Regions from separate parts of the Homo sapiens genome. Here all the other regions are linked to region 1. The links come from fine-mapping of genetic effects on gene expression. A gene starts in region 1. Each other region holds a variant in brackets. All regions are shown on one strand. Distances are from middle to middle.

Region 1 (2,764 bases):
CAAACATGCCAAGTGGCCAGCATGGAGTAGAGTGTCAGGAAAGGTGGATGGAGGCAGAGTGTGGCCAGCACAGCCATCTCTACTCCTTTTTGTTTGTTTGTTTGTTTGTTTTTGAGACAGAGTCTCACTGTGTCACCCAGGATGGAGTGCAATGCCGCTATCTCGGCTACCTGCAACCTCCGCCTCCCGGGTTCAAGCGATTCTCTTGCCTCCGCCTCCCAAGTAGCTGGGACTACAGGTACACTACCACACCCGGCTGATTTTTTTTTTTTTTTAGTAGAGATGGGGTTTCACCGTGTTAGCCAGGATGGTCTCGGTGTCCTGACCTCATAATCCGCCCGTCTCGCCCTCCCAAAGTGCTGGGGTTACAGGCGTGAGCCACCGCGACGGGCCGCCATCCCTACCGTTTACAGACAGCGTCCATCTCACTGGTGGGTCCCTATGCAGTCCAACTTGCTCCACGTCTGAATGTCAGTCCTAGATACAAAGCAGAGAAGTTTAAAGTAGGGAATGGCTTCTTTTTTCCTTTTACAAAACATAATGATGGTAAGACACAATATTGGAGCTGGGATGAAGGAGAAGTAGATATAAAGATATGGAGGGGCATCCCTTAAGGGATATAAATAGTTTCACAGATGAAATGCCTAAAGGAGAGAGAGGAGAGACAGATGAGGAGACAATTATCTCAAAGGAGGAAAATGGTCAAAAGGCAAAGAATAATGTGTGTGAACTCTCCGGTGCATGGTAAGTACTATAAATATCTTAGTTGTACTAGTGTTAGTCAATCAAGTATTTGTAGTTGCTGTTCCTACAACGATTTTAACTGCTACTGTAACTACTCTCACTGCTATTAAGACAACTATTATAACTATTGTTATAACTACTACGTCTGCTAGTACAATAACTACTATTATGACTGCTACCACAGCTACTATTACTGCTGTCATGGGATCCTTGAGGTGTCGTTTCATCAGCCAGAAACCTCTGTTGCTGGCAGCACCTTCTGCCTGAGTATTGCTCGTGCCCACTGGGCTTGTTCCGCCCACTTGGCCCGGTAGGCTGTGCTTGGCTCCCGCCACCAGCCCAGATCCCACACCTGCCCAGGGAGAGCTAGGCGCGGAGCCGCAAGGGGTGTGTGGGTGAACGAGCGCAGGGACCGGCAACAGCCATACATACCGGCTGCTGCAGTGGGGCTGGCAGCTCCAGGCGCCAGCACAGTTGTGGCTCTGCGTGAGGCTGGACCAGATGGACGGCATGTGGATTCTGCTGTGGGCACCTGTTTGGATGAAGGGAACGAAGGTGGTGGCGCCTGGAAGCTTGAAGATGCCAGGAACCATAGAACCCCAAAGGGAGTGTCACAGCCCTGGCTCAGGGAGACCCTAGGTCTGGGATCCTCAAAGGAACACAGCTCTTTTCTCCTTCTCGTCACCCGCAATGTGGCAAGCAAGGGAGCGTGTTTCAGCCCTGTTTGTGTTAAAGCTCTTTTAGTACCTCCAGGCGGGTCCTGAGTTCTTGTCCTGCGTCCAGGGAGATGAGGTATTGCGGACAAATGGAGGCTTAGCAAGATGGAGAAGAGCTTTATTGAGTGGCAGAACAGCTCTCAGTAGACCTGAAGCAGGTAGCTCCTTTCTGCAGGAAGGTTGTCTCTCCTTTCCGCAGGAAGGTTGTCCCAACAAGTTGAGAAGACGCACAGTGGGCAGCTCCTTCCCGCAGCTGGTACTTCCGACTTCGCGTGACTCCGGCTGCGTCCGGGGAGCGGGGTTTTTATGGGTTCAGAAGGGAGGAAGTGCATGCTGATTGGTCCATGGGTGGCCATGGGCGGGCCTGGAAAAAGAACCATTAGTGCTCACTCCAGGCCACAGACTCCGACCGGAACTGACAGCGCGGCCTCCAGGATTGAAGCCATCCCTGGCTTGAAGGTGGGGCTTCACTGGGACCCGTCCCTTTCTGTCCAGTAGCCTGTCTTCCTTTTGCTGCCATCAACGTGCCCTCCACAGCACCCAGGCTGTTCGTTTTGAAGGGCGCCTCTAGGCCTGAGCCCAGCAGCCCACAGCGCCTCCTCGCCTCTCTCCCGTGCTCATCAGTGCCCAAAGTCCAGAGGGGGCTGAGGAGGCAGGGGGCTGGTGTAACAGCGCCTCCCTGAGCATGCGCACGCCTGGCCAGGTTGCAGCAGCACCCAGGCTTGGCCATCACTTTGCTCCAAAATTGAAGTGGGCACAGGGAGCAGGCAGAGGCCAGGAATGGGAGCAAGCAGGCACTGCTGAACCTGTGGGGTCAGGGGCTTCCTGGCCCCCCGAAAGCACAGGGATGCCTGGGTCTGCGGCGGCAGCTCTGCAGCTGTGCCCCTAGCACGGGTTCCCCACCCTTTAGCTCGGTAGGGGGCGGGACCCCTGCCTGTTCCCAGCTCCCCCCGCCCCGGCCCTCCACCCACCCTGGCTTTGCTGAGTGCGCAGCTCTGGCGGCACCTCCCCTGGTGCAGCCGGTGTCTTTGCAGCGGCCGCTCCAGACAGGTGGCCGGTGCCATCACTGCTGCTACTACAATTACTATTGTGACTACTTCTGTAACTATGGTCATTCTATTTTATAGGGTTGTTATGAAAGTCACTATATGTAAAGCTCATACATATGTGCTTGGCACACTGTATGCCCGTAATAACTCTACAGCATGTCTATGTGTCTATTTTTATTTATGTATTTTTCTTTTCTTTCTTCTTCTCTTTCTTCCTTCTTGTTTTTTGTTTTTTGTTTTTGTTTGTTTGAGAAA
Region 2 (2,764 bases), 720 kb before region 1:
CCCCTGACAAGGCCCAGTGTGTGATGTTCCCCTCCCTGTGTCCATGTGTTCTCATTGTTCAACTTGAAGCTGGGTAATTTATGAAGAAAAGAGGTTTATTTGGCTCACGGTTCTGCAGGCTGTACAAGAAGCGTAGCATAGGCATCTGCTTCTGGCGAGGGCCTCAGGAAGCTTCCACTCAAGGCAGAAGGTGAAGGGGGAGCTGGTGTGTGCAGATCACATGATGAGAGAGGAAGCAAGAGCAAGGGAAAAGGTGCCAGGCTTGTTTTAACAACCAGCTCTCAAGGGGACTCTTTTGGGGCCTAATAGAGCAGGAACTCTCCCTTGTTACTATGAGGATAGCACATGCTGTTCATGAGAGATCCACCCCTGTGATCGAACAGCTCCTACTAGGCTCCACCTTCAAGATCGGGGATGAAATTTCAACATGAGGTTTGGAGGGTCAAATATCCAATCATAGCAGGATTGGAATGCATAATGGTGATTCTGGAAGTCTTTTAGGGAGAAATGCATCTGACAAGCAGGAGCAGTTTGTCACTGATATGCCTGGTCTTCCTAAAATGCTGATGCTGCTACTGCAACTACCACCTCCACCAGCACCATCTTAATCTCCTCTTCCATAGTTCCCATCACCACATCCCTCTACCACCACCACTGCCACCATTACCACCTTCACTCTCATTACCACCTTCAGTGCCATCATCTTTGCCACCATCACCACACCACAACAGCCATCACCACCATTACCATTTACTGAACCCTTGTGACGTGGTAGACACCATGCTAGAGGTTTTTAAAGGGTTTAATCTTCATGATACTCCTACATAGTAGAAATTACTAGTCCTATTTTGCAGTGGAGGGAACTGAGGCTCAGAAAAGTTAAGAATTTGCTCAAGATGACATAGTAGAAAGCTGTAGAGCCAGGATTTCAACCAGGTTCATTTGCTCTTCCAGTAGACAAGGAGGAGTGGCTCAGAAAGCTGTGCTGTTGGACACAGGCATATGTTGTGGGCTTGTTTTATGTACGTCTGGGCCACATTGTTTGGGTCTGAGAGACTCTTGTGGGCTATGACCAGCACTGACAATCTGTTTTCCCTTATTTTTTCTGACTTTCTTTCACACATTCTAGATCATATGGCTTTTCTGGTCAGAACAAATGAAAATGTTTTATGTCCTCCCTTTTCTGAGCTTTGGATGTTACTGTTTG[T/C]ACACAGTTCTGGAAGCAGATGGAGCCTGATAGAAATCCCAGATGATAACTCAGACTCAAAAGCTCCTTGCAAATGCCCACGTAGCATAAATACCCTTGAGCATATGAGAGACAGTGACAGAGACTGAAAGACAGACAGAGAGACAGGGACAGAGAGAGACAGAGACAGAGAGACAGAAAGAGAGACAGAGATAGACAGAAACAGAAATAGAGACAGAGACAAAGAGACAGAGATAGAGACAGAGACAGAAAGGCACAGAGGGATAAGAGAGATGGAGACAGAGATAGAAAGAGACAGAGAAAGAGATAGACAGAGACAGAAACAGAGACAGAGAGAGGGCTGCAGAAAACTCATCTTTGCCTGCAATGCCTGCTCCAGCCAGATATCAACACGGAGGGCTCCCCACCAACATTCTGATAGATTCTGAACTACAAGCTTCCAGAATATTAGCAGCTGAGCTCCTCCGCCCTGGGAGGAGATAGAGACAGAGAGAAAGATAGAGACACAGAGGGAGAGGCAGAGATACAGATGTGGAGAGAGAGAGACGGAGATGCAGAGAGAGAGAAATAGAGACACAGACAGAGAGATAGAGACAGATACAGAGAGAAATATATAGAGACAGAAACAGAGAGAGGCCAAGAGATAGAAACAGAGAGACAGAGAGAAAGAGGTAGAGACACAAAGAGAGACAGAGATATAGAGTTGAAGAGACAGAGGGAGACCAAGGGGCAGAGAGAGAGAGTGTGTGCCTGATGGCGCTGTTGGTCCTTTGTATTTTGGGGTCTAGGGGTGCCAGGAGTACCTTGGGCCTTCCGTGACCTTTGCTTCACATCTCCTCAGGTATGAGTGAGTTGAGCAGGGGGCTGCCTTTGCCCTGCGAGAACCGTGCTGAGCACTTTCTAATGCCTGGCCTCTTGGTAATGGCACATCTGCCTCCTGACAGAATCCAGAAGCCCGAGTCAGGTGCCTCCAAAAGGGTCCCAGTTCATTGCTGGGTGCACAGTGTGAGCTTCTGCTCCATCTAGGCATGGGAAGAAAGCCTCCCCTGAAGCTGTTACTCCAAAAGTCAATTCCCCTTGCATTTAAATGGAAGCTCAGAGCACTGTGCTAAAATCACCAGCAGTTAAATTGAATTGGAGCTTGATTAGGGTTCTGACCTACAATAAATCACCTGGGAAACAGCTTTTTGGTGGCATATTTGGCCCGAGGGGGAGGAGCTCAGCTGCTAATATTCTGGAAGCTTGTAGCTCAGAATCTATCAGAATGTTGGTGTGGAGCCCACTGTGTTAATATCCGGCTGGAGTAGGCATTGCGGGCAAAGATGAGTTTTCTGCAGCCCTCCTGTGAATTTCCTGACAGAACTTCTCTCTCACCTCCTGTTTGCCTCATCTTAGCTTTCATCTCTTCTTCTTCACTCTGCCTAAGCCCTGGGAGGTAGCCCAGCGCCATCTGAGAAGGTGGTGGGGCACGCAAAGGGCATAGCCTGCGTCTTTTATTTCGCCTCCACCTCCATGACTACGGCCAAGTCATTCACTTCTTGGATCCTCATTTACAAA
Region 3 (2,764 bases), 200 kb after region 1:
ATACTACCATATATATATATGATATTAACTTCCTATCAGATATATAATTTGCTATTCTATCTTGCACAAATTGTATGGCTCATTGCAATTGGTTTGCACTTTCATCACATCTGATTAATAGTATCACTCAGTCTTCCCAGGATCAGATTATCCCAACTTCCGCATAGAAAACCTGAGTTTTATGCGCCTATGCTTGTTAACACTCTTCACCTTCTATCTGGCAGGAGTAATTGTAGATATTTATTTGCATATAAATAATAGTTGAAAGGAGTCTTACAGATACTCTGTATTTTCTCTATTTTAAAAAGCCTTTTTTTTTTTCTTTTTTGTAAAGGTTTAACAACACAAAGAGCCAATCTGTGATAATAAGACAGGCATTTCTTTATTCAGGAAAAAATGTATAGAAGACACAATTCGTCTCAAAGTGAAATAGAGATTTATGGTACATATTATAGAAAGTGAGGGTAAAAACAATGGCAAACATTACATGACTCATTCACTTTGAAACATCTTTCTTCCTACTTTTAATGCTATTAAGGGACTAGAATTGTATTCCTTTCCAGATCCTATCTAGGAGTTATAGGGGAAGCCATATCCTTGAAAAGAGACAGTGAATACATGAAAATCTGCTTTGTGTACATCTCTGGAATATTAATATTTGACACAGACAATGGATCTTTCTTCAAATTCAGATAAAATGCTATGCAAACAGAGCTTCCATACAAGTCTAAGAATAGCTCCCACCATAACCCCATCAGATTACCATCCTCAGTGTATTTTATATAGACTTGCTAGGGCTCTAACTGAAAACCAAAAATACTGGGGGAATCAAAAAATCTAGAACTATATTTTAAAGTTTTAATGGAGATAATTTCTATATAGAAATACAAATTGCCGGAATTAACACAAGAGATATTTTTAAATGTAGAGATGAATAAGAATAAAAGAAATCATTTTACAACTTAAATTGTCCCAGGAGGTAGCAGAAGAAGAAAACTTGCAGACAACTTTTACAACACTGCAATAATGCTGATAACAAAACTTAATATATACTGTCAGGTGAAGAAAGGTTACAGTACATCATATCCCTGATTGGGTGATTATTTTACTAGTATACAAAAAAGAAACATCAGAAAGAAAGATATATCATTGGGGTTCACATCTGAAATGTAAAGATATGCAGGATCTAACTCCAGAAATTCTGATTCAGTTGGTTCAGGATCTGACTCAGACACATGGGAGATGCTAATGTACAGCCATGTTGGAGACTACTGGGATAGTTGGTCTGATTCAAAGTCACGTTATATATTTTTTAAAGGCAAAGGATTATTTTAAAAATGAAATTATCACATAAAAATTAAATCATAGGGAAGCATTTGCTAACACATCATTAAAGCCCGAAAGTCTAAAAGAAAAAAAATTGCTCCATTTGACTATATAAAAATTGTTTTATTCGTCAAAGAAAAATCGCCATTGACAAAGATTTAGTAGCCCTGAAATATAAATATAAAAGATTCTTATGAATAAATCAGAGGAAGATCAAAATCCCAACTTATGTTGGAAAAAAATGAAGAGCAAAGAACCTGCAGTTGTATTTTATATTAAAATATACAAATGGTCATTAAATATACAAAAGTCTCT[TAC/T]ACACACACACACCAGTAGTAGAAGCAATGCAAAATAAAATAACAATAGGTAGCATTTTTTTTGAGACAGGAGTTTCGCTCTTGTCGTCCAGGCTGGAGTGCAATGGCACGATCTCAGCTCACTGAAACCTCCGCCTCCCAGGTTCAAGGGTTCTCCTGCCTCAGCCTCCTGAGTATCTGGGATTAGAGGAGCCCGCCACCATACTGAGCTATTTTTTGTATTTTTAGTAGAGACGGGGTTTCACCATGTTGGCCAGGCTGGTCTCGAACTCCTGACCTCAAGTGATCTTCCCAAAGTGCTGGGACTACAGGCGTGAGCCACCTCTCCTGGTCATAGGTAGCATTTTTAATGGAATAATGAAATTGTAAAGTAAAATGATTAAGAACATGGGCTTAAGGTTTGCAACTTCATTCTACCATTTACTAGCTACACGGTCCACAGGCAAGTTATTCAACTTCTCTGTTTTGTCATCAGTAAAAGGATTGTTGTAAGGATGAAATAAGTTTTCATATATGTAGTACCTATAACAGTACCCAGCCCACGGTAAGTGCCATTTAGCATTTTCTGTTGCTCACGCAAACGTTAAAAGCTTACTATTGTTGGCGAGAGTAAGGGGAAATATTCTCCTCGTGTGCTAGGGGTTAAACAAAGTCATACATTTATACTGAAGCACTAATTTATTCATTTATTTAATGATGATTTATTGGGTAACTTGCGTGCAACAGGGACTCCTCTGAACAGTGAGTAGTCCATAGTGAAGAGTGAACAAACAGATGAAGTACTTGATCTTATAATTTTTTTTTTTTTTTTTTTGAGACAAGGTCTCACTCCATCCCTCAGGCTGGAGTACAGTGGCATGATCTCGGCTCAGTGCAGCCTCGGCCTCCTGGGTTCAGGGAATTCTCCCACCTCAGCCTTCCAAGTAGCTTGGACTGCAGACACAAGTCACAATACCAGGCTAATATTTGGTGTTTTTGTAGAGAAAGGGTTTCACCATGTTGCCCAGGCTGGTCTGGAACTCCTGAGCCCAAGGTATCTCCAGCCACTTTATCCTCCCAAAGTTCTGGGATTACGGGGGTGAACCACCATGCTTATATTCTAATGGGTAGTAAGTAAATGT

Direction of the effects. Alleles are on the strand shown, and positions count from the first base shown. SD is a standard deviation of normalised expression in the study named.
With allele T in place of C in region 2, the expression in prefrontal cortex of the gene that starts at base 1,740 in region 1 is higher (moderate effect, 0.47 SD a copy in CommonMind).
For the expression in sigmoid colon of the gene that starts at base 1,740 in region 1, allele TAC in region 3 goes with a higher level than allele T (small effect, 0.25 SD a copy in GTEx).

What was found. PIP is the estimated chance that this variant, and not a neighbour inherited with it, causes the effect. A credible set is the group of variants that fine-mapping cannot tell apart.
Region 2: its variant is the best candidate, but not a certain one, in a credible set for the expression of LINC01579 in prefrontal cortex (CommonMind, PIP 0.89).
Region 3: its variant is the best candidate, but not a certain one, in a credible set for the expression of LINC01579 in sigmoid colon (GTEx, PIP 0.73).

Annotation. Positions count from the first base shown.
Region 1 is chr15:93,898,860-93,901,623 of GRCh38, forward strand. It overlaps LINC01579 (long intergenic non-protein coding RNA 1579), which reads right to left and starts at 1,740. Exons shown (of 4, transcript NR_138083.1): 1 at 1,492-1,740; 2 at 1,177-1,276; 3 at 405-477. It overlaps LINC01580 (long intergenic non-protein coding RNA 1580), which reads left to right and starts at 1,842. Exons shown (of 3, transcript NR_120323.1): 1 at 1,842-1,919.
Region 2 is chr15:93,173,918-93,176,681 of GRCh38, forward strand. No RefSeq gene overlaps it. Among named protein-coding and RNA genes, the nearest start is that of RGMA, 86 kb to the left of the region's middle. The variant T/C (reference allele first, on the strand shown) is at 1,208.
Region 3 is chr15:94,094,029-94,096,792 of GRCh38, forward strand. The region is part of intron 1 of LINC01581 (long intergenic non-protein coding RNA 1581); the gene reads right to left. All of the region lies in intron 1 of LOC105369203 (a long non-coding RNA gene), which reads right to left. Among named protein-coding and RNA genes, the nearest start is that of LINC01581, 13 kb to the right of the region's middle. The variant TAC/T (reference allele first, on the strand shown) is at 1,642.